Homo sapiens: one gene and its partners. The protein of the gene in region 7 purifies or fractionates together with the protein of the main gene of each other region. This does not show direct contact. Each region holds a gene or a part of one and is shown on either strand. Other genes may lie near its edges.

Region 1 (3,500 bases), on a different chromosome or scaffold from region 7:
GCTTAGTGCCAAGCACAGGGTGTCACAAAATACTGGTTAGCCTTGGCCCCTGGCCTGAGGTGAGAACATTTACAGAATCAGATTCCAGAGGTCTAGAAATTCCAATCCACTTCTATAAATGGAGGGTTAAGTGCTGCTGAAATAACAGACGTATCAGTCATGCTTTGCATATTGCTACTGAGAGAGAACTGAGTTACTGCATAATTAGAGGTGTTAAAAGAAATCTAATCTATGCTTCCCTGTGGTTCAGACGATCCTCTCCCAGCAATTTATGTCTACCCTGGCGTCTTTCAAGAAAAAATATATTTTCACTAGTCCCTCAGGTAGGGGCAGAGCTCTACTTTAAAAATTCTTAATTTCTTAAACATTCTTCAGTGGGTCAATCCCCAGGGACATGAGTTAGAACTAGGTCTCTAGGTCCCTCTAAACCTTGGGCTGCCCCAAAATAATCTACAAACCAAAAGAAAATGGGAACCCTGAAGGAAACCAGGAATCTGCCCCAACTCTGCCTCCACCTGAAGAGCCAGGCAAGGGCATTTCCTGACCTGTCTTCTCAGAAGCAAAATGGGAAGAAATGGTCTTGAAGAAATGGTTTGGGGTAAACAATGGTATCCATGTTTACCCCAAGCTGCAATTTAAACTCCTGCTTCGTAAACATACAAACAGACAAAACATGAAGGATTCATCATGTAAAGTGCTGTTTTAAGGACGTGTAGTTTAGGTGATATGTTCTCACTCTATTCCAAGCATGTAATTCATGTTAAAAAAAGGAAATTCCCCAAAGCCTCAGATTACTGCAATTGAGTAGGACTCATGAAACATTCCCCAGGGCTTAGGAAAAGTGATAGATTTCTTTCCGAAGCTTTGGATTTGCCTATGAGGACACTTAACTGAAACAGAATGAAAAACGTTCCTTTGCCGTTCTTTGCACTTATGTATGTTCACATATACACTCAACATTAGTTGTGTCCTTCACGACTGAGGGATAATGCCACAAAAAGGGAGGGAGATCTTGGGGAGGTCAAGATTATTTTGAAATGGTTTTATAATGGAGGAATAATTCTTGCCCAAGAACTATATTCAACTGGATACAACCTGCTTAATCCTCGCTCAAACATAACAGCAAAACCAGTAATTCGAACAGAAAGCCCTGTTCTTTTTCATCAGCTTTTCATATTCTCAACCGATTCTAATATCTTGAAGCCCAGGTCCTAGTTACCTTATGTTTCACAGAATAAAAGTAGTTTCAAGATGAGCTAGATAACACCCTCATTTAATAAGTGAGGAAACTGAAAGCCAGAAGGAAGAAGGGGTTTTCTAAGGCTGTACAGAGTTCACTGGTGACAGGGCTTGGGGGTCAACATCTAAGCCAGCAAGAGCTCAAGAGCTCCTTCCCCTTCCCTGACACAATGATGGCCCTCCTTCCCTCCAGGTAAATCATGGTAAGAATAGACAGAAAGAAAATATTCTACATTAACCATCGCATATTCTCTAAAACACTTCAATTAATTAATATCTAATTTTTAAATGGGTAAGACATACACGGACTTAATTTACAAAAATTAATGAATTAGCTAAAATAAATATAATCAAATCTTGTGTAAAGAATGTTATTTTAATGTATTGACCTATCATTTAAAACACCTTTATTATACTGGAAAAGCTTGTGCTTATATATTAAAAGTCAGTCTTAATTTTAGATTAATTATGATTAGATCAAATTTAAGATTACTCTTAATGATTTTCAAATTATGGGTGGCAATCTATTATTAGGTCAAAAAATCAATTTACTAAGCCTGAGAAAGGCATTTTAAAAGTCAATAGTCTAGAGAATAACAGAGGACAGTTGGCTCTCATAGCCCTGAGTTTTGGATTCATGGATTAAATCAACCACAAATAAAAAATATTCAGGAAAAAAAAATGTGGCTGTACTGAATACATACAGACATTTTTTCTTATCATTGTTTCCTAAATGAACGGTATTAGGTAGTATAAGTAATCTACAGACAATGTGAAGTATACAGTAGAATATGTATGAATTATATGCAAATACTACCCCATTTTATATTAGGGGCTGAAGTATCCATAGATTTTTAGTATCCATGTGAGGTCTTGGAACCACCTCTACACCCCACCCCACAAATACGAAGGGACTAGTATAAATCACACACAGTACAGGAAACTAGTTTGGGGAAACTTTTCCCGTATTATATATAAACATCACAGAAATATATACATACAGAGATGATAGGTACTAGGTCAAAATGTAAAACACACATCATTCTATAGATTACAAAAAGCTTAAAAGCCACTTCAATTTATGTTATTAGGTCAGAACGTTACGCCAAAAATATGTTTTCTATGTTTCTAATACCATGCTAACTAAAATTAAAAATTATGAAATTATTACATTTTTCCATGTGGAGAATCATGTGAAGAACTACAATAATTTTAAAAATATTTCTTAACTTCAGTCAGCAGAACATTAAACATTAAAATATAGTTTGTAGATAGATATACCTATGGTTAAAAAAAATTTTTTTAATAATATGGCACTGACACAAACTTAACTCCAAACAGTAGTTCTCTCTCCAGAGAGACGAAGAGGGGCATGAGTGCCTTAGCTGCATGAGCCATTCTGCTTCAAAAGCAAAAAGAGAAAAGATACACAATAAGGCAAAATATTAACATTTGATGTGGGTGGTAGGTTCATGGGTTTTTCTATTTCCTGTGCTTTTTAAATGTCTTACATATTACATTTTAAGTTCTATAATTAAATTCACTTATTTCATGTTGTCAACAGCACATATTGCTAAACCATGAACATGAAGATATGGTTTGACACATTATAACAGGTGTGAGAAATTTCCGAATTGCTGATTACCTTGATGACTCCTCATAATGATTTCTTACTATCTCAACAGCAAGACTGAAGTATATTCTATTATTGCAATTTGTCCCTGAATCTGCAGAAGCTGAACTAGTACCCAAAAGATATGAGGAGGGCCTGAGCTAGAAGGGGATCTGGAAGATTTTCAATGATTATGAGGAAGTACATGAACACATACACACAGAGAGTTGTATTGTCAAATACACTGACTTTGCCCTTCGGAGGTTACTAGGAGTTTCCAAACATATAATCTCATTTATACTGAAATATTACTTGCCCAATATATAATTTCTTCTGAACCCACTCTAATTTTTTTCAAGATTTGCCTCTGTATTCCCTCCATCAGTATTCTAGCACAACCTGGAAAACAATCACATATTCAGTCAACTTTGTAAATCAGTAACCAGATTGAGAATTACTGAAACTATTTCACAGCCAGGCCACGCTCAGAGCATGAAGAGAACTTTTCTCCTTTTCTAACCTCCTCTGCCTTCGATGTAAACAGCATAAACAGCCTACTGAGGATAAACGGCATACACTCATCTTCCCACCTTTCTCTGTGGGCACATTTAAGGTGAACCACCTTTCACCCTCCCATTTCTCAAACTTT
Region 2 (3,500 bases), on a different chromosome or scaffold from region 7:
TAATATAATGTATGAATGTTTATGAAGTTATCAAGGAAATTTGAACACTACGATATTTAGTAAAAAAATTAACAGTAATTTATTAATATTAGGTGTGATAATAGCACGGTAGTTACATTTTCAAAAAGACACCTTATCTTTTAGAGATCCCTATGGAAATTTATGAATAAACTTATGTCTAGAATCTGTTTCAAAATAATCCAGGTGTAGGTCAAGTCGCTGGAGGCATGGATATAACACTGTCCATCAGCTGACACTGAAGCGAAATGGTAGGAGTTCATTTTACCATTTTTTCTGCTCTTATACATGTTTGACATTTTCCATAGTAAAAAAAAAAAAATTTTTTTTTTTTTTTTTTTTTTGAGAGAGTCTTCCTCTATTGCCCAGGCTGGAGTGCAGTGGTGTGATCTCAATTCGCTACAAACACTGCCTCCTGGGTTCAAGCAATTCTCATGACTCAGCCTCCTGAGTAGCTGGGACTACAGACACGCATTACTAGACCCGGCTACTTTTTGCATTTTGTGTAGAGACAGGGTTTCACCATGTTCCCAGGCTGGTCTTGAACTCTTGACTTCAAATGATCCACCCACCTCAGCCTCCCAAAGGCCTGGGATTACAGGCGTGAGCCACTGCATCCAGCCCAAAAATCAATTTTTAAAAAATATTATCTAGCCGGGCACGGTGGCTCACGCCTGTAATCCCAGCACTTTGGGAGGCTGAAGTGGGCAGATCACGAGGTCAGGAGTTCGAGACCAGCCTGGCCAATATGGTGAAACCCCATCTCTACTACAAATACAAAAATTAGCTGGGCGTGGTGGCGCGTGCCTGTAGTCCCAGCTACTCAGGAGGCTGAGGCAGGAGAATCGCTTGAACCCGGGAGGCGAAGGTTGCAGTGAGCCAGGATCGTGTCACTGTACTCTAGCCGGGGCAACAGAGTGAGACGCTGTCTCAAAAAAAAAAAAAAAAAAAAAAAATCTAATTTGGGCATATCTCAGAAGTTCATAAACACAGAAACATTAATATAGTAAAATTTAGTTTATTGCCATGTATTTATTTTAAAAAGCTTTCTTAGTATTTATGTCCATAAAAGCAAACAAAAGCACAAAATTCACAATGTCTAATTTTAGCAATTTACTCAAGAAGTGAAAAAAGCACCATCTATCTCATTTAAAGACATATTTCCAATATAATTTAAATACATTAAAATTGTTTTGATCAATTAGGTACTAAAAACAACTTTAATGATAAGTCAATTGAGAAGAATTTGTCATAGAATTCTTTTAAATATTTTAAAGTTTCTTTTATGCATGCATTTTTGTTACAAACAGGGTAATAAAAAGTTCTTAACTATACCATATACTATTAAGATACACTTCTGAGGGGAAAATAAAAACAGTAAAACAAGTTCAAAGAAAAAAGAATAATGGAAAATTTCCAAATGCTGAACTGGTATTTTTTTACAGGATAGTAGGTATCACATTGCTATGCTATTTAGATTCCATTGATACATTTAAAAATAACACAATTTTGTATTGAAAAAAATTTCTTAATGTCGCTTGCAGACATCCAGAGGGGTATATTATTTTCAAAATTCTTATAGCATTTTCAAAAGTTTAAAAACTCTTTCCTAAGGGATATCTTCTTAATCTTCTTTAACCTTTACGTGTACATCTTTTCTATGTTGTACTGTATTTTGTTTAAAGAGAATATTAGGCCGGGCATAATGGCTCATGCCTGTAATTCCAGTATTTGGGGAGGCTAAGGTGGGAGGATCATTTGAGCCCAGCAGTTTGAGACCAGCCTGGGCAACATGGTGAAACCTCATCTCTACAAAAAAATTGACAAATTAGCCAGGCATGATGGTGTACACCTGTTGTCCCAGCTACTTGGGAGAAGGCTGAGGTGGGAAGATCACCTGAGCCTGGGGAGGTAGAGGCTGCAGTAAGCTGTGATCACACCATTGCACTCCAGCCTGGTTGACAGAGGGAGACCCTGTCTCAAAACAAAAACAAAAAAAGAGAAAATTAAAAACTTCTTGGCTGGGCACAGTGGCTCATGCCTGTAATCTCACAACTTTGGGAGGCCGAGGTGGATGGATCACCTGAGGTCAGGAGTTCAAGACCAGCCTGACCAACATGGTGAAACCCCGCCTCTACGAAAATTACAAAAATTAGCCAGGTGGTGTGGCACGCACCTATAATCCTAGCTACTCAGGAGGCTGAGGCAGGAGAATCACTTGAATCCAGGAGACAGAGGTTGCAATGAGCCGAGATTGTGCCATTGCACTCCAGCCTGGGTGACAGAGTGAGATTCTGGCTCAAAAAAAATAAAATTAAAAAAATCTTAATTTCAAATAGAAATTTCACATACTAAGTACCAAAGAGGTTCCGAATAAATCTGCACACTCACATTAGTGTAATTCTTATCTTGGCATACGCTTCTTCCTGGTTAGGGCTAGATCCTTCCAAAAGACAATACATTCAGAGTTTTTGTAATTCTCAACAATAAGTACTGGGATGGATAATTCAGTTTTAGGCTTTATTCAAAAGTTACTTGTGACTAAAACTGTAAGTATAAAAATAATTTTTTAAAGGAAGGGATAAATGTACAAACTCTTAGCAAGTAGAGAAATAAGAGTTATGGACATCTTCTAGTGAGTTGCCTTAACTCATAAGTACTGGTACTCTTAACCCTAGTTAGTTACAGTGTAGCCAAGCTTTTAAAAAAGAAAAGGAGAAAAAGAAAAAAACAGCTATTTTCACAAGCTTCTTACCAGCTATGATTGTTGTTGCTTGTCGCCTCACATTATTTTTATCCATGTATTCACCATAGTCTATTTTCCCTTCCAAATAAATTCGAGACCTGATATAAATAAAATGTACAGTTTTTAGTTGAGATCTTAATATGCTTTATAAGAGTCAGGTCAGGGTGGTACTGAGTATATGACAAGGATGAAATATATAATCATATATAAGCTAATTTTTGCTACCACTTCTCAAGGTTCAGGATTAGGAGTACTGAAACAGAGTGTCCAAACAGACTTGGTAACATCTAGGTAAAACAGACAATGTTTTCATCTGTCAGCTATTTCTCTTACGGAAGTTAAAAAATAAAACAAAACAGTTCAAAGGGAAATTTAGTGGCAACATTTAAATCTCTAGGAATAATTTCCAATGTATCATTTTCCTTGACCTTTGATTTTGGAGTCCCTAACAGACTTGATTTTCACTTATTTATCAATTATTTTCTATGACCTTAGAAACTTAGATGATTAAAATTCAAAATATGGATTTGTAGTTAGTTTAGTATAATATTACCCTGAGTTAATTACTAAGACTATTTCTACACTGTATCAGCTTAGTATACCACTTAGAGGTAATTACTAAGACTATTTCTACACTATCTAGAGGCTAAACTAGATAACAAACCTAATCGTGATTTTCAAGAGTGGAAAGATGACAATAGTACCAGTTTTGAGAGTCTACCACCACCAAAAAAGT
Region 3 (3,500 bases), on a different chromosome or scaffold from region 7:
AAATAGGTGGGGTTAAGGTATCCATTTTCCCCATCTCCTCTGGACCACAACTCCCTTCCCTCGAAGCTAAGAAGCAGTAATGGTCCTCACTATTGCTAGCCTTGGATTTTTAGATTATCCCTTGTTATATCCTTAAATGCTAGCCCAAACCTAAGTAAAATGGTGTGAAACCCCAAATATATAAAAAAATTTTTTTTAATTTTCATTTTTTAAAAAACAGTCTTGCTATATTGCCCAGGATGGACTTGAACTCCTAGGCTCAAGTGATCCTTCTGCCTCTGCCTCTCCAACAGCTGGGACTACAGGCACACACCATTGTGCCTGGCTAAAGTCTCTCTTTTAAAAAAAAGGATAAAATGGTTTTAAGTTTGTGTGACATTACTAGTATTTTTCTTGATATGTATGAAATAATTGTATTTATCTAAAGCTAAGTAAACAAGAAACTGTAAGGGCAAAATGTTTAAAAATAAATGTGCCTTAAAACAAACAAAATGAATCTTATTTTATATACAGTGACACTTGAAATATGGTTGTCAAGGCAAAAAAATAAGTTACACTTTCTTAAAAAAAAAAAGTAAAGCCATGCCCCCCAAAAATCTACTTTACCAATCTTCCATATATTCCTGGAATCCTGCCAGATTTTTTTTCTTGAATTATTGCATCAAGGACTTTCCCCCTACTTCGATTCATTGCTAATGAGCTCTTTGCTTCTTCAACTTTTTGAAAGAGATCATGAACCAAACTTTTAAAGTTTGTTTCTTCTTGTGTAAGTTTTTGAAGTTCTTTTTCTTTCTAAAAGTGAAAATAAAATGAAATCCAGAAGCATTAACTTCTAAATATGACCAGTCATAGCACTGAATTAGTTGTAATGCTTTAATAACAATAAAGAAAGAAAGACCAACAATAAAAATTTGAACCAAAACTGAGCACCTGTATGGCAATTGCTGGTTTGGTTGTGGAAAATATGGATGGGTTTAAAAGGGGCATAAATTACTTGGGTCAATAAAAGAAAACATTAGGTGTAATATTTTTTTCAGGAGCAAACAGTTCATCCTGATAGAGAAGTATAGCTGGGGCTGTGGAAATCCCAGTTTGATACTACATAGTTATACATAAGTGTGCCCTAATTCTTCAGCTCTGCCCTAATGAAAAGCTGACCCAGAAAATGACTGGGCAGGACTACGGTTATGCTGTGCTTTATTTTAGCTGAACGGGGCTGGGGGGTACTGGAGAAAAAGCACACCTCTGAAACGAAAGATGACTGGATAGTCCTATTGCTATACAAAAATGCCAGGCTCCCAACAAGAAAGGAACCACAAACATGCACACATAAACACAACCTCTGTTTCTCAATCTCCAACTTCTCAGCAGCCATCTTTTCTAACTGGTATATTCCTCCATCCACTAGATTTAAATTATGTCTATTACTTACTGTACTGGCATAAAGTTTAAACCAAGTTACTGACATAATTCATCCCAAAAGAAACCGAATCCCAGGAAGACAGAAGCAGTCACTGGATCTAACTTAATTTACATTTAAATTCTACCTGGTCATGAAATTCCCTGATGACCAAATAGCATGCATTAACTAAAATGAAAAAGACTCATATTTATTTTCAGTATAATTACACTTCAAACAGATTTTTTTTTTATTGCCACCTTGCCTACTGAGGTTTTGGAGATCTTTGGAGATTAAAGTTTACGAAATTCCTTAGACATCTAATTCACTCAAGGATGGGGGACAGGCACCGATAAGCTATACATCTTAGTTAGTTTATAACATTTTGGAATGCAAGCAAAGAAACTACATCCATAAATTCAAAACCCAAAACACATTAAGATAGTTGTTTGTATATTCATTATATAAATACATATACACTTGTTTTTTATTTATCTTTAAATTGTCTATACTTAAGATTTAAAGAAACACAAACTTTCTTTTGTTTAAATTATTTCTACAGTGGGGTGGTGGTGGTGATTTACTTACTATATGGTGCTTCTGGGGATAATATAGTTTCTTGATAGTCTCAGTTCACATATGGAATACTGAAATGCTGACCTCATTCTTTTGAGATTATACAAAATGAAGAAAATTTATCACTAGTCACCTCTGACGCGGAGATTAAAAACAAAAATGTATAAAGCTGAAGTGGACGAATGATGTTCTGATGCAACAGAGAAGCAAAGATTTACCTCCTTTAATTCTTGTTCAGTTTGAGGGAGTTTTCCTTCTATATCTCTGATTGCAGCTTTCCTTTCTTTGAGAGTCTCAGAAGCTGCAATTAGAGCTTCCTTAGCCTTAGTTAATTGAGACACTGCAGTATTATGACGACTGAGATAGATATCAAGTTCTGACTGGGCTACATCCATCTTTGAACGTGCTTCATTTACCGATTTGCTGAAACCCATAAGTTCTTTCTCTCGACTCTGTTAAAATATGAGTTCATTAAATCTGGACAGATATTTACTTTCAAACCTACACTGAAATGAAACCATACATTTTATATTCGATTTAAGAAAGGAGATTCTATAAGCACAGTATATAGAAATAAGAAATTCTCACAAGTGGACTAGATTCAGTTTTTGCCTAGTTGTCAATATTCACTGTACATAGTCTTTTCCCAACTGATTTCACAAGAGCTTTGTGAGATCGATCATTACGCTGAGGAATAAAGACATTTGAGGCCTAGCTTTGTCATTAACATGGGGTGCAGGGCACATGAGTACTCAATATATATTAAATAAGCAAACAGTGAAAATCCACTAACTATGAAGTATCCCATCATGAAAGCTACTGCATTATCCATTGACACTTTATCACACAGGTATTCTAACCTGTAAAGTTTTATAATCTGACATTAGAACATGTCCATATTCCAAAGCAGACTCTATTAAGTGACACTTCATCACACAGGTATTCTAACCTGTTAAGTTTTATAGTTTGACATTAGAACATGTTGATATGCCAAAGCAGACTCTACCATGACTTTTTAATGCAGTCAATTACCATTATCCATTAACATAGGTATTTAACATGCTTAGCACTGTCAAAAATGCTGTGGTACATACAAACAAAGATAATTTTATGCTTACTCTTGTTGGGGTAGATAATACATATCAATGTGACAACTTCATGCTCTCGTTTTATTAATATAATGCTAAAATTATAGCTAACATTTATTTTCTTTCTCAGTACGTTATATAGATATATTTATTCTTTATTTTCACAAAGTAGATATATTCTTTCTCATTTTAAGGAAGATGACTTGGAGATATGACAACCGGCACAAGAACAGAGACAGTAAGTGATTGACCTAGGATTTGAACCAAGAACTGAAACAAGAGCCACAGCTTTTAACTATTACACAAGAGCTATAGAAGCAAAAACAAAAGAGACATTAACCTGCGCTTAGTGTGGCTCCAGGTTTTACAGGTGGCAACAAAATATGATGATTCAACACGCTTAGGAGTGGCATATATAATAATCAAGGTACTGTATT
Region 4 (3,500 bases), about 14 Mb from region 7:
CTTACAGACTGTGGGCCACGTAGGAGGAAGGGGGCACTCCCCAAATTTAACCAAACTCCCGCCTTCCCCACATCTCTGTTGCTCGCTCCTGCCCTCACCCCGGCGGAAGGACTTGCGGAGAGGGCGGCCCCCAGGACCCTCAACGGGTGGCAGCTGCCCCAACTCCTCCACACCCAGCGGCAGCGACTTCCCGGGCTTCAGCTTCGGCTTCTGTGGGTACAGGGGAGGCGCTGGCACCGGGCTGGGCCCCAGCCCGCATGCAGACCGTGGGCACAGACTCGCAGATCTGCACCCGGAGGCGTCCCCTCTTGCACGCGGTCCGCAGGACCCCCTGCCTCGCCCAGTCCCTCGCCCAGTCCCACGCACCTTCCTCGTGGCGTCAGGGCTGCCGAGGCGCGAGGAGCCAGGTTCCCGCAGAGGGCGTCCCTCGGCTTCGGCTAGCAGGCACTCGCGGTACAGCGGGGACTTGACGAAGCGCGCATAGCTGTCGAACTTCATCAAGTTGAAGATCTGCGGGGCGACCCCGGAACAGGTGAGCCGGGGCTGGGGTGGGGGCGCTGGGCTGCCTGCACCCAGGCCGGGTCCTTGGGGCTGGCCCCGCCCCAAACCTAGGGCTGGATTTCCCAAGCCCCGCCCCGACCTCAGTTCCTATACCCACCCCCGGGGTCCAAGCCCGCCCCGAGCTCAGCTAGGCTCCGCCTCTAACTGTCCTTCCCCGTGCCTCTGATACCGCCCTCTGAGCTCCGCCCTGCCTGCCCCGGCATTTGGCTCTGTCTCCGCCTCCAAATTTGCCCCCTCCGCTTTGTAGTTCAGACTCCCCGCCAGGGTCCGACCCCGCCCCTGCTCCTTTTGTCTCCCTTTCAAGGCCAATCCCCCCAGGATCGCCCACCTGAAGCTGCTGTGCCCGAAACATGTCCGGCCGGGGCTCGGCCAGCACCTCCTCGCCAAGCCAGGCCTGACGGTCGATGTTCACTGGGCTCAGCGCCTGGCTGGACAGGAACTCCTGGTAGATGTTGCGGGCCTCCTGAGCTAGCTGAAGGAGGAGGGACAGGAGGAGTTGGTCAGGGAGCGTGGCCCAGTTCCCCTCTCCCCAGCCCTCGGCCCCAGCTCCCCCTTCCCCCACCTGCTGGGTATCGCTGGCCGGGATCTGCTGGAAGCGCTCGCAGGCCTTCCAGAAAGTCACGTTTTCCGCGCTGAACTCCTTCTTCAGGAACTCCTGGGAGGGGAAGGAGGGGGAGGCAGGCAGAGACTCAGAGACACAGAGACCAAACTGGGGGATGTGATCAAAAAGATTGGGACAGAGACAGGGCCAAGAGACCAAGCCAGACAGACAGGGCCAGACAGACAGACGGAGCCAGACCGATCTGAAGACAGGGAGAGAAAATGAGAGGCAGAGACAAGGACAGGGAGAAGGAAGAAAAGTTCCCAGCTGGGAGAAGAGGAAGAGGGTGCTGCAGGAAGGCTAGATGAGGAAGCTGACAGAGGACCCCACTCTGGCCAGCCTGAAGCTCCATCCACGCCCTGCCCTCTCCCGTGTCCCCCCTTCCCTTTCCCTACCCCAGGCTTACAGTGAAGTAAGCCAGGCCCAGCGGGTCCTGCAACAGCCGCTCGAAGGACAGGGCCCAGCTGGCCACAGGCTGCTCCTCGGTTGGGAAGGGGCTGCTGGGACCACTGGGGAGGCTGTGGATGCTGAGAGAGCTGCCGCGGCCCTCGCCCTGGCCCTGGGGCCCCGTCGTGCTGCTCAGCTCTGCAGGGGGATGGACAAGTTGGGGTGAGCCTTGCTGCCTTCCCCAGCCCCTGGCACAACCCACCCTCCCCCATGCATCCACTCTGCAGCCATGTTCCCTGGAAAGATAGCAGGTGGCAGGGGTGTCCCCACCCATCTCCACCTCCCTCCTCCCTCCCACTCAGCCAGTTCTCCACACATTCTGTCACTTACCTCCATCTGACACAGCCAGAACCTATAAGAGACCCAACAGAGAAAGTCAGAAGAGCCCAGTGAGGATTCCCAGGGGACAGTTCTGGGCCCGACTCCCAGGAGCTGGAACTGCGTTCTCCTCCACCTGGGCATCCCCGGCCAGGTTCTACTTGGTCAGGGTTTTCCTCAGTCTGCCCCTGGCTCCCCTTCCATCCTGTGCCAACCACTAAGTACTGGGACTTATGGCAGGTACCTTCCAGCAGCCCCTGGTTCCCTCCTCCCCCAGCCCCTGCTGGGTGAGCCAGGTGTGCATAGCATGGTGGGTAGGAACAGACTTTAGTCTCTGCCACTTACTAGCTGTGTAACTTTGGGCAAGTTAGTTAACTTGTTTGCCTCCATCTGTAATCTGTAAATAGGAGATAATGCCTATTTACAAATGGAGGCAAACCATTTGCTTCCATCTTGATGTAAAGATCAAGTCAGTTTAATATATTCACAGCATTGGCTGGACACGGTGGCTCACGCCTGTAATCCCAGCACTTTGGGAGGCCGAGATGGGTGGATCACCTGAGGTCAGGAGTTCGAGACCAGCCTGGCCAACATGGTGAAACCCAGTCTCTACTAAAAATACAAAAAAAAAAAAAAATTAGCTGGATGTGGTTGTGGATGCCTGTAATCCCAGCTACTCGGGAGGCTGAGGCAGGAGAATCGCTTGAACCCAGGAGGCAGAGGTTGCAGTGAGCTGAGATTGTGGCATTGCCCTCCAGCCCGGGTGACAAGAGCAAAGCTCCGTCTCAATAAAAGAAAATCAAATAAAAATATATCCACAGCATCTAGAACATGGGCCAGCATGTGATATGGGCTGTATAAACATGTGCTGTCTTTGAGGAAGGAGAGGTGTCTCTGCAGCCAGTGATCTTACTATCGCACGTGTTGCCTATTGGGCCCAGGGTCCCATTACCACCGTGGGAGGGCACAAGATGCTGGTCTATAGTACAGAGCAGTGGTTCTCAAACTTCAGTGCAGAGTGGGAGGACCCCACCTCTGGAGATTCAGGTTCAGTAGGTCCAAGATGGGGCCTGAGGCTGTCCATTTCTACCAAGCTCCCAGGCGATGCTGATGCTGCTGGTTCAGGGACTACTCTGTGAGTAGTACTGCTGCAGTAACTAACTCCATCCTTGCCCCCAGTGCACAACTCTGGTTTCTCTGGGAATCCCAATCATTAGTGAAACAGAAAAACTCTCCTCTCAAAATGACTCTTGCGGTGGTTTCTCTTGTTTCTCTTTTTACCTTCCTAGCAGCTCCTCCAGCTTCCCCACTATCTCCCACTCATGCAATGTGGCCTCAACCCCTCTCTGGCTCTGTCCTGGGCACTTTGTCCCATCCACAGATCCACAGCTCCAGACACACATAACCAACTTCCTGGTAACGGCTCCAGCGCCTATCACCCCTGACTTGGGGTTAGAGGGCAGGACAGAGGCTCAGGGTGTGCGCGAGGAGGGCAGGGCCAGGCAGCCCAGCGGAGGGGGGCGAGTCCCCCCTCAAATGTCCCACAAGCCCTCAAGCTCCCAAATGGAAGTCC
Region 5 (3,500 bases), on a different chromosome or scaffold from region 7:
ATTATTTCATTTCAGAGAGTTTAAACAGTTAAAAGTTAAAATAGCTAGTGCTTATGCCTTTGATATGCGCCAAGCATTGTGTGAAGCACTTTTTGTTCATTTTCAGTGAATCCTCACAACCACCCTGTCAGGGTGGGTACTATTGTTTCTGTTTTAGAGATCAAAAAATTGAGGTCTAGAGTAACTCACAGACATTTATGTACATAGTAGGGTTGGGCTTTGAAGTCATGCAGTGGGACATGAGTCCATATGTGGCTCATGTAAACGTTTATTTTTTTGAGACAGAGTCTCGCTCTGTCGCCCAGGCTGGAGTGCAGTGGTAGTGGCAGTGGCGTTATCTTAGCTCACTGCAACCTCCACCTCCCCAGCTCAAGTGATTCTCCTGCCTCAGCCTCCCGAATAGCTGGGATTGTAGGTGCCCGCCACCACGCCTGGCTAATTTTTGTATATTTAGTAGAGACGGGGTTTCACCATGTAGACCAGGCTGGTCTCAAACTCCTGACCCAAGTGATCCACCCGCATTGGCCTCCCAAACGGTGGGGATTACAGGCATGAGCCACTGCGCCCAGCCTCATGTAAACCTTATGCAATTCTCCAGCACCTTGCTGCAGAGTCATGTATCTTATCTGTATTTGCATCAAAGAGGACTCTTAAGACATGCCTGATTAAATCCTAGTCTCTTGCCCAGAAAAATACCTTCATATTTATCTCAAGTAGTTTGCCTTAAATATATTTTCAAAGTTAGTTGTAGGAAATGAAGTTGTATTTCCTATGCCACCCCTTTAATAAAACAAAAATTTTAAATGTTTAGAATTTAAACTTTAAAAGAACGTTCTAATGTCTTTAGGCTATACTTAAAATGGATTCATGATATTTCTACTTGATTTAATAATCCTTCAATTTTAGTTTGTTACTTTTGTGTAGTATTCATTTCCTTGTACTTTGAACATAGATTATTGATAAAAGGAAGTTAATTCCAGGGTATTGGTAGGCATTAACTTAGAAGTAGGTAAGTTAATTTCTTGAATAAAATATTTTGTCTGGAAATTGACTAGTTCACCTACAAAGCTTATGTTTAATTGAAGGGCTTATTATTTGTGGTTATACCTGCTTTTATTGACTTGATTTGATGGTTCTGTACTTACTTCATATTCTGTTTGACCTTCATTTGTGGGTTTGTCATTTGATCATACTTTCTGGTTGCATGGAATTAATTTTAAGGCCCTCTACTGTGTGGCATATTGGCCATGTTATCTGTTCAGAAAAACTAGTTTTAATCATGAAACTGGAGACCTGAAGAATTATAAGTATGCAGCTGACTTAGTTAACATATGTCAATCAGTTACTGAAAGGGACAGTGTTAGCTTTTTGTTCTTGTATTTTTCTTAAACTGGCATCATCAGATATCTACTTAAAGTCAGATTCCTAAATCAATGGCATGAATTATTTGTAAGATGTTGGAAATTATTAATATTTAACTTTATCTGTTTTTAATTTTCATCCTTAAAGAATAAGGAAGAACTTTATTTTGCTACTTGTAGTTACTCGTGTTTTGATAATCTGTTTTGAAAAGAATTTAAATCAGTCAAGACCAGGGCCTCAAGTTCTTTGATAACATTTGGATTGAATGAGTCTAAGGTTTTTCTTAAATTTTGTAATAAAGGTGCATTTAGTGTTTTTATTAATTGCCAGTAATACACTCACTTTATTAAACTTTGACAGAGTACGTTTATTCTCTAATTCTGTTTATATTCATACTGAAGTATGCCTTTAGACCCCCTTAGTTGAAGTTTCTAAATAACTGCCTTTTTCAGCATCACATTTTGCATCAAATTATTATATAGAATTAAACCCCAAATACAGATAGCGGTGGTCTCAGGGCTGTCACTTACGTATCTTTGTCAGACATAGAACATTATCCTGCATGTTTTGGGTCAGAGAACTAAAAATGTAATTTAATTTAAATGAACAAATAGTTACTGAACATCTGTGTCTAATAGCACTGTGCTTGGTTCTTTGGGTGATGTAAAAGTAAGTTAAGATATGGGCCTTGGGCACTGGCGTGCCTGTAGTCTCAGCTGCTTGGGAGGCTGAGGCAGGAGGATCACTTGAGCCTAGGAATTTGAGGTTACAGTGAGCTATGATTGTGCCACTGCACTCCAGCCTGGGCAATAGAGTAAGACTGTGTCTCTCTAAAAAAATAAAAGATACAGACTTTATAGGAGTAAATACATATAAATAACAACAAAACCTGGAGAGAGTTAAAAATATTCATTTTATAACTAGTAGAATTCTAGAATATGGTAAGCAACTTCATCTTGAGGGAAATAGGACATTGACATAGAGGAAAACAGAATTTAGGAAGAGGCAGGCAAACTTGGTTAAACTGTTAGCATAGGAGTTAATATTCCTTTTGGTTACAGTGGCTGAAATCATTTACATTAAATTGTCATTTTTGAAAGAAGCTTTTTTTTTTTTTTTTTTTGAGATGGAGTTTCTCTCTTGTTGCCCAGGCTGGAGTACAATGATCTGCTCACGCAACCTCCGCCTCCCAGGTTCAAGTGATTCTCCTGCCTCAGCCTCCCTAGTAGCTGGGATTACAGGCATGTGCCACCACACCCGGCTGATTTTGTATTTTTAGTAGAGACAGGGTTTCTCCATGTTAGTCAGGCTGGTCTCGAACTCCCGACCTCAGGTGATCTGCCCGCCTCGGCCTCCCAAAGTGCTGGGGTGATAGGCATGAGCTACTGTGCCTGGCTGAAGGAAGCATTTTTGTGTCAGAATTTGTCCTTGTAAATTACAATATCTGTTATATAAATGATTAAAGAGTTTGAGCCGCTGCATGGACTGAGGTCCTCAGAGATGACCACTTTTTTATTTATTTACTTATTTATTTCTGTGAGAAGGAGTTTCACTCTTGTTGCCCAGGCTGGAGTGCAGTGGCGTGATCTTGGCTCACTGCAACCTCCGTCTTCCGGGTTCAAGCGATTCTCCTGCCTCAGCCTCCCAAGTAGCTGGGGTTACAGGTGCCTGCCACCACACCCAGCTAATTTTTTGTATTTTTAGTAGAGACTGGGTTTCGCCATATTGGGCAGGCTGGTCTCAAACTCCTGACCTCAGGTGATCCGCGCAGCTTGGCCTCCCAAAGTGCTGGGATTACATGGAGATGACCATCTTTAAAGATGGGACTGAAATTACTAGCTTTCTGAGTTGAGGACATGTTCTCCATATCCTGTTGGGTGTTTTCAGCATCCTTTGTAGGCTCATATATTTGTCTCTCCTTGGACCATAAATATTTGGGTAGTAGAAGGTCTGAAGAGGTTGGGAATACTGAAAATGCTGTTGTCTTGAGGAAAAGGTAATAGCAGACGCCGATGTAATTTTGTTTTAAAAATAATTATATGTTTAATTCAGCAGTTGGCAGAAACTTTTGGGAGGCATCTTAAACTGTCCTATTACTCCCAGACCCCTAGTTAAGGAAAATCGTTGGGACCAATACT
Region 6 (3,500 bases), on a different chromosome or scaffold from region 7:
TATCTGGTAACACCTTCACAAATCACAAAGGAAAACTTAAGAGCCAATCTCTAAAAATTTGGTTTAAATACATAGAAATCAAAGGTATAGCACGGCAAAATATCCAGCAATTCCTCAAGTGAATTTACTGGTAGCTAGGATTTATCTCAAATGACAATATTCAATTTTAGTAAGAGATTTTATTTTTAAATGTTTCTAGTAACCCAAAAGACTTCCACCCGTGACATGTACTACGTCAGACTAAGGCAATATGTTTTCTTTGGAAACGAAACAGTAACGTCTATTTGTAGGTAAAGGGAAGTTAGGAATAAAATAATCTTATCAGCTCAAAACTACCCTCCTTGGGCATGGAGCTTGGAAGGGTATGAAAGAATGTAGCCAGGGATAAAGTGAGCTCAGGTTTCTCTTATAACGAGATACCCATGTGTTCTAAGGTTCTAGGTATTGCCCAAGCACAGGGTTTCTTTTTTATTTTTTCCTGAGATGGTGTCTCATTATGTCACCTACTTTGGAATGCAGTGGTATTATGACACTGACTCATTGCAACCTCCGCCTCCCGGGCTCAAGCCATCCTCTGACCTCAGCCTCCCAAGTAGCAAGTAAGCTGAGACTACAAGCGCACACCACCACACCTGGCTAACTTTTTATTGGTTTTAATTTTTTGGTAAGATAGAGGGTTTCGCCATGTTGCCCAGGCTGGTCTCAAACTCCTAGGCTCAACGGATTCACTTGCCTCCACCTCCCCAAGTGCTGAGATTACAGGTGTGAGCCACCACACAGTGGAACAGGGTTTCTTAATGGACATTTTCAGTCGGATAATTCTTTGTTGGGGAGTAGCGGCAGCAGTGCTTGTCCTATGCACTGTAGGATGTTTAACAGCATAACTGGCCTCTACTCACTAGGTCCCTATAGCACCCCTCCAGTTATGACAACCAAAAAGTATTTCCAGACATTGCCAAATGTCCCCAGGAAGGGGGAAACAGGAGATGGAATTTCTGTAGTATAATCAGTATAGATAAGTACTAAAGAAGTTTTTTTTAGGAAAAAAACTTAGTGTTAATATTAACATTTATTAATTATACTGGCCCCTACAAAATAAGGATAAACAAAAATTAAAAATGAATAAAGCACTCATTTAAACCATGAACTTTTACTATGGGATACTGGATAAAGTTTGAATTAACATTTGTATTAATCCAGAAAGGAGAATTTTTAGAATTCAAAATTAAGACGAGTTTACCTGGTTGACTGCATTTGCCTTGTAGTTTCTGGATCTTCAAACATCTTCACAATTGGTTCTGTTTCTGCCTGAAGCTGTTTCAGTTGTGCAACCACTGTGGTTCTTTTCTCTCTCAAAGCTAATTAAAAATGCAGAAGAGCACTACAATGTTAAGGAATGTTAAATTGTGCTACTCATCATGAGAATGTCTGGAAATTTTTCAGTGTATTTAAACTATACATATATTTATTTACCCCCAATATATTCATATGCCATGGGCTACTCAGTCAGAAATGTCCCCGATCCCTAATTTCTTTTTTCTACTAATACAAAGGCACAAAAAGGAAAAGGGAATCCTCTTCCTACTCTTGAGGGAAACTAGAGAATATACAGCCTTGGGGTGACAGAGGGATGTGAAAGAAAAAAAGGGTAGGACCCAATTATCTATCATTTAATTCTCCATTGCAGAAACTTCTTTCCAAGTGTTTTTATATTTGTTCTCATTTAATTTTCTTAGGTGAATATTATCCCAGAGTTTTTGAAGAAAAACTCAGAGGGATTTACATATTACTATTACAGGTTATCAACTAGGTTGAATGGAATTTAAATCCATTAAATAATCTCTTTTAACCACAAATCCAGCTCTATAATCTCTCAAACCAAATTCTATCGTTCCTTTTACTATACTATGAAAAGGTGGAGAAAACTTGCACATAACCAACTCTGGTAACACCTTAATGTTTCATTAAGAAACTAAGAAATAGGCCAGGGGCAAGGGCGCACGCCTGTAACCCCAGCAACTTGGGAGGCCAAGGCGGGCTGATCACGAGGTCAGGAGTTCAAGACCAGCCTGGCCAATATGGTGAAACCCCGTCTCTACTAAAAATACAAAAATTAGCTGGGCATGGTGGTGGGCACCTGTAGTCCCAGCTACTCGGGAGGCTGAGGCAGGAGAATGGCGTGAACCCGGGAGGCGGAGCTTACAGTGAGCCGAGATCGCACCACTGCACTCCAGCCCGGGCAACACAGCGAGACTCCATCTCAAAAAAAAAAAGAAAGAAACTAAGAAATAGTTTCCTTTTTGTTTATCCATGACAAACTAAAAAAGAGATACTGTTATTGCAGGGAACTACAAGTCAAACATGTGGATTATGTTTAATGTAATAATGTCTGTATTATATATTAGAAAGTATATTCTAGAGCAGTCTTTCTGAAACACAGAAGATCTATGATCAAATTTTGAGAAATGCCAATTTAATCACAGTATACTGTATTTCTCTACTGCCAAAATTCTTGGAACCTTTAAAAATGTAATGTGCATTGAAGAAATGACACAGAATTATTTCCCAAACTTAAGAGGACCACTTAACAGTTTTGATTAAGTAGGTCTGGTGTGTGGCCAAAAACCTGCATTTCTAACAAGCTCTCCCAGGTGAACTGATGATGCTGGTCCTGGGGACCATATTTGGAGAACAATGTCTACACTAGATGCCTCAAAATTAAAAAAAAAAACACAAAACTCTAAGGCACACAATGCACTAACTGAAAAAGTTAGCAACCCAAGAACTGCAACATTCTCAGATAATTCTAAGGAATGTGAATCATAAGCACAACTTTGATGATACATACTATGAAATGAAGGCATCTGATGACCATATTTTAAAGTAGTTCCACATCTTTCACAGGGAGAAAACAATATATTTCGGAAGATATGAAACCTTTATATAACCTCTCACCCAAAGAACATTAACATTCAAATCATATTTAAGCCTTTTGGCTAAAGCTGTCTTATAAATCATAAAACTTTAATACACACATCCTCAAGTCACAAGACAAGTTTCAGTTCTAATGACAAAACTTACCATGAGGAATATCATCAGAATAAAGGTTTTTGTATACATCCATAGCAAAGTCTACCATGTTGGTATCACTAAGAAGGTCCAATTTACCTTGTAATAATTCCTTTTCATTATATATCTGCAAAAGAAGATAACTTTCTAATGAATATATTTAAGTTCCCCAAATAAACTGATTAATACTAAAACTAATTTACCTGGAAATATATTTCAAGAAATACTTTATAAAATACGATAAACCATTAACATTCCCCTCTTGTAATAATGGCAAGCAATATGGCAAGCAACCAACCTATAGACGTAAAAGTATTTTACTTACCTAAAAATTTTAAAATGAAGAGAATTACTGTAGACATTCCCACCTACTTCTGATTTACATGACCTTATTTTTTATGTGTCCCTACAAACCATCTCTTACCCTTTCT
Region 7 (4,077 bases):
TATTACTGGAATTGAATTAATTAATATGATTTTGAACAGTTCATGTTCAAACTAACATCCTGTAAAGTAGACACTGCAAGGAGTTACTGATGAAAGAAAAGTTGTTCATAAAAGAAGCCTCCTTTTATAATTGACTTGCCTTAGACTTATTTAATAATGTTTCATAGTATTTTTTAAAAAGTATCTGAACCTTGTACATATTTACAATTATGAGACATCCTATCTAAAAATTTATATTTTCGATTTAACATTTGTGGCTGGCAGTGATAATTTTTACTCTCTGGTACTATGAATCATCTCATTAAAATCCTCTCAACTGAATGACATTATCCCAATTTGCAAATGAAAGAGAGACAGAGAACCTAATGATTTGCCCCTGGTCTATACCTGGTACTTGGAGGTAGGATTCAAAGCCAGGCAGTTCTGACTCCAGAGGCTGTGCTCTTAACCACTCTATACATTACCTCTCAAAATAAAAGATTAATTGGACTCAAGTGAAATTGCTTGTATAATTTTTAATCAAAACTATATGCTGGCCACATTAACTTCTGTGCTGTCATCATGATCATAGAATAATAACAACACTCAATTTATTTCTCTATACTAATAACTTTGATAAAATGTTATTATTTATTAAATCTATTTTTCAGAAACCAAAAAACAGTAAACATGAGTCAAGATGAATTAAAAGATAAGCCAATTTTTAAGGCCGAGCGCAGTGGCTCACACCTGTAATCCCAGCACTTTGGGAGGCCAAGGTGGACGGATCACTTGAGGCCAGGAGTTCGAGACCAGCATGGCCAACATGGTGAAACCCCATCTCTACTAAAAATACAAAAATCAGCTGGGTGTGGTGGCGCATGCCTGTAGTACCAGTTACTCCAGAGACTGAGGCAGGAGAATTGCTTGAACCTGTGAGGCAGTGAGACAAGATCACACCACTGCTCTCCAACCTGGGCAACAGAGTGAGGCTCTTGTCTCAAAAAATAAATTAAAAAGCCATTTTTATATTCATCAAAGTAGAGTTAGGAACAACCAAAATTGCCAAGGATAATTAGGGACATTATATAATGATAAAATTCACCAAGACAGTGCTAAAAGTGTAAGCACTTATTATCAGATCTTAAAAATACATGAAGAGACCAGGTACAGAGACTCATTCATTCCTGTAATTCCAATGCTTTGGGAAGCCAAGGTGGGAGGATTGCTTGAGGCCAAGAGTTCAAGACCAGCCTACTCAACATAGGGAGACCCTATCTCTACAAAAAATCAAAAATTAGCTAGGCATAGTGATATACATCTGTAGTCCTAGGTACTGAGGAGCCTGAGGTGGGAAGACTGTCTGAGCCCAGGAGTTTGAGGCTGCAGTGAAGCATGACAGAGTTGCTATGCTCCAGCCTGAGTGACAGGGTAAGACTCAAAAAAAAAAAAAAAAACATGAAGCAAAAAGTGGTAGCATTAAAAGGAGGACTGGACAAATCTTCATTTACAGTTGGAAACTTAAACATTCCTCTCTCAGTAGTCCATAGAATTAATAGAAAATTAGCAAAGATGTAGGAAAATGGAATAATACTAATAACCAGCTAGATTTAATTGACATAAAACCCTTCTACCTAAAACAGCAGAATAAGCATTCTTTTCAAGTACACATGGAACACTCACCAAGATAAACCACATCATGGGTCTTAAACCTTAACAAATTTAAAAGAGATGAAATCATATAAAATATGTTTTTTGACCATAATCTAGAAATCAGTAACAGCAAGAAAATCTCCAAACACTTGGAAATTAAACAACACATTTCTAAATAACTCATGATACTACAGGGAAGTCTTAAAAAATATTTTAAAATAAATGAAAATATCACCGTGCTTGGAATGCAGCCATGCTGGTGCTGCAATTTATAACAATCGACTGCTTTTTACTAAACAAGAAAAAGTTCTCAAATTAACACTCTAAGCTCCCACTTTAAGAAAGTAGGAAAATCTAACTGGGTGTGGTGGCACACCACTATAGTCCCAGCCACTCAGAAGGCTGAGGTAGGAGGATCATGACCCCACGAGTTTGAGGCTGCAGTGAGCTATGATCATAACACTACTCCAGTCTGGGTGATGAAGTGAGACCTGTCTACAAAAAAAAGAAGCCCAAACTAAACCTAAAGCAAGCAGAAAGAAGAAAAAAAAAAAAGAGGCAGAAAATAAATGCAATTGTAAACAAATTAATAGAAAACAATCAAAAAACTAATTTTTGAAAAGAGCAGTAAAATTGATAAACCTCTGGCAAAATTGACAAAAAAAGAGAAGGAATTCCAATCTTTGATTCCAATCTTAGGAATCAAAGAAAAGATAACAGTATAGATCCTCATTAGAACGACACAAAGAAAATACCATGAACAACTCTATGCACATAGGATTAGATGAACCAATTCCTTGAAAGGCATACAGTACCCAAACTTAAATAAACCTCAATAAATTCTCTATTTTTAAAAATTGAACCATTGTTTAAAACCTTACTAGCAAATTCATAAAACATTTAAAGATATAACAAATTCTACAAATCTCTTCCAGAAAGAATAATCACTTTGCAATTCATTTTACAAGACCAGAATTAACATGATACCATACCAAGATAAAGATAACACAAGGAAAAAACAAACAAAAACAATTGCACAATATCCAAAATGAACACAGACATAAAAATCCTCAAAAAATAAAAATCTAGATACATAAGCTGAATAATGTACCATGACCAAGTTTGGGGTTGGGAGGAAATATAAGCTGTTTCAAAATTCTGGAATCAGTAAAATCCATGATTTTAACAGTCTAAACAAAAAGAATGACCAAACTGATACAGAAAGAGCATAGAAAATTCAGCATCCACTCATGAAACTCTGCTAACAACAAATTAATAGATGGGAACTTGCTCAACATGACAAAGGGAATTTAAGAAAAGCCTACAGCTTGCATACATAATGGTCAAAAACAATGCTTTCAAAATCCTAAGATCCAGAACAAGACTGAGATGGCCACTTTCTCCATGTTATTGTTCTGGCCACTGCAATCAGGCAAGAAAAATCATAGACTAAAAAGAATAAAATAAAACTGTTCCTATTCGTAGTTTATGTAGAAAACTTAATGAGTTAACAACAAAATCAGGCAAGAAAAATCATAGACTAAAAAGAATAAAATAAAACTGTTTCTATTCGTAGTTTATGTAGAAAACTTAATGAGTTAACAACAAAATAACTCCCAAAACTAATGAAGTTTAGCAAGGTCACAGGATACAAGGTCAACAAACAAAAATCAAACACATTTGTACATACTAGCGATGTGCAATTGGAAACCCATGTTTCAAAAATAATACAACTTAACAATAGTTCCTCCAAAATGAACACTGTGGAATATATGCTGAAAAATGACATAAAATGCTGATAACTGAAATGAAAGAGGTCCTAAATAGATACCTCATGTTCATGGATTGGAAGACACAAAATTGCATTCAAAACCCCAGTAGGATTTTTTGTAGATACAGAGTAGCTAATTCTAAAATTCATATGGAAGGCAAAGAAACTAAATTAGCCAAAACAATTTTGAAAAAGATTTCAAAAAAATTTTGAAGGAATCATGCTGCCCAGTTTTAAGACTTACTATAAAGCTGTGATAATCAAGGCAATCTGGTATTTATGAAAGGATAAACACATAGATCGATGGAATAAAGTCCAAAACCAGACTCACATAAATAGCAATTGATTTCTGACAAAGGTGAAAAGACAACTCAATGGGGAATGGAGAGTTTTTCAACAGACGATTTTAAAACAACTGAACATCCATATGCAAAAAAATAAACCTACCTAAATTTCACAGCTTATACAAAAATTAACCTAAAATGGATCACGGATCTAAATGTAGAACTAAATTTATAAAATTTTTAGAAGAAAAAAATCCATAGGCCGGGCACGGTGGCTCATGCCTGTAATCCCAGCACTTCAGAGGCTGAGGCGGGCAGATCCGTTGAGGTCAGTTCAAGACCAGCCTAGCCTATATGGTGAAATCCCAACTCTACTAAAAATAAAAAATA

What was found.
Region 1: the proteins of NUDCD2 (region 7) and CCDC50 purify together in Homo sapiens (affinity purification with mass spectrometry, with the first as the bait; one large-scale study listed by BioGRID). This does not show direct contact.
Region 2: the proteins of NUDCD2 (region 7) and SSBP1 purify together in Homo sapiens (affinity purification with mass spectrometry, with the first as the bait; one large-scale study listed by BioGRID). This does not show direct contact.
Region 3: the proteins of NUDCD2 (region 7) and SMC4 purify together in Homo sapiens (affinity purification with mass spectrometry, with the first as the bait; one large-scale study listed by BioGRID). This does not show direct contact.
Region 4: the proteins of NUDCD2 (region 7) and RGS14 purify together in Homo sapiens (affinity purification with mass spectrometry, with the first as the bait; one large-scale study listed by BioGRID). This does not show direct contact.
Region 5: the proteins of NUDCD2 (region 7) and G3BP2 purify together in Homo sapiens (affinity purification with mass spectrometry, with the first as the bait; one large-scale study listed by BioGRID). This does not show direct contact.
Region 6: the proteins of NUDCD2 (region 7) and EIF3E purify together in Homo sapiens (affinity purification with mass spectrometry, with the first as the bait; one large-scale study listed by BioGRID). This does not show direct contact.

Annotation. Positions count from the first base shown.
Region 1 is NC_000003.12:191,353,394-191,356,893, reverse strand, and holds part of CCDC50 (coiled-coil domain-containing protein 50 long isoform), read right to left. Parts: intron 1-3,500.
Region 2 is NC_000007.14:141,744,858-141,748,357, reverse strand, and holds part of SSBP1 (single-stranded DNA-binding protein, mitochondrial precursor), read right to left. Parts: intron 2,863-3,500; coding exon 2,774-2,862; coding exon of another isoform or gene 2,697-2,773; exon of another isoform or gene 1,021-2,696; intron 1-1,020.
Region 3 is NC_000003.12:160,416,650-160,420,149, reverse strand, and holds part of SMC4 (structural maintenance of chromosomes protein 4), read right to left. Parts: intron 2,428-3,500; coding exon 2,194-2,427; intron 793-2,193; coding exon 607-792; intron 1-606. UniProt on the Homo sapiens protein: Central component of the condensin complex, a complex required for conversion of interphase chromatin into mitotic-like condense chromosomes.
Region 4 is NC_000005.10:177,364,424-177,367,923, reverse strand, and holds part of RGS14 (regulator of G-protein signaling 14), read right to left. Parts: intron 1,962-3,500; coding exon 1,940-1,961; intron 1,748-1,939; coding exon 1,569-1,747; intron 1,217-1,568; coding exon 1,124-1,216; intron 1,034-1,123; coding exon 890-1,033; intron 511-889; coding exon 367-510; coding exon of another isoform or gene 211-366; coding exon 99-210; intron 1-98.
Region 5 is NC_000004.12:75,649,412-75,652,911, reverse strand, and holds part of G3BP2 (ras GTPase-activating protein-binding protein 2), read left to right. Parts: intron 1-3,500.
Region 6 is NC_000008.11:108,238,718-108,242,217, forward strand, and holds part of EIF3E (eukaryotic translation initiation factor 3 subunit E), read right to left. Parts: intron 3,197-3,500; coding exon 3,082-3,196; intron 1,359-3,081; coding exon 1,241-1,358; intron 1-1,240. UniProt on the Homo sapiens protein: Component of the eukaryotic translation initiation factor 3 (eIF-3) complex, which is required for several steps in the initiation of protein synthesis.
Region 7 is NC_000005.10:163,446,026-163,450,102, forward strand, and holds the end of NUDCD2 (nudC domain-containing protein 2), read right to left. Parts: 3' UTR 501-4,077; downstream 1-500. UniProt on the Homo sapiens protein: May regulate the LIS1/dynein pathway by stabilizing LIS1 with Hsp90 chaperone.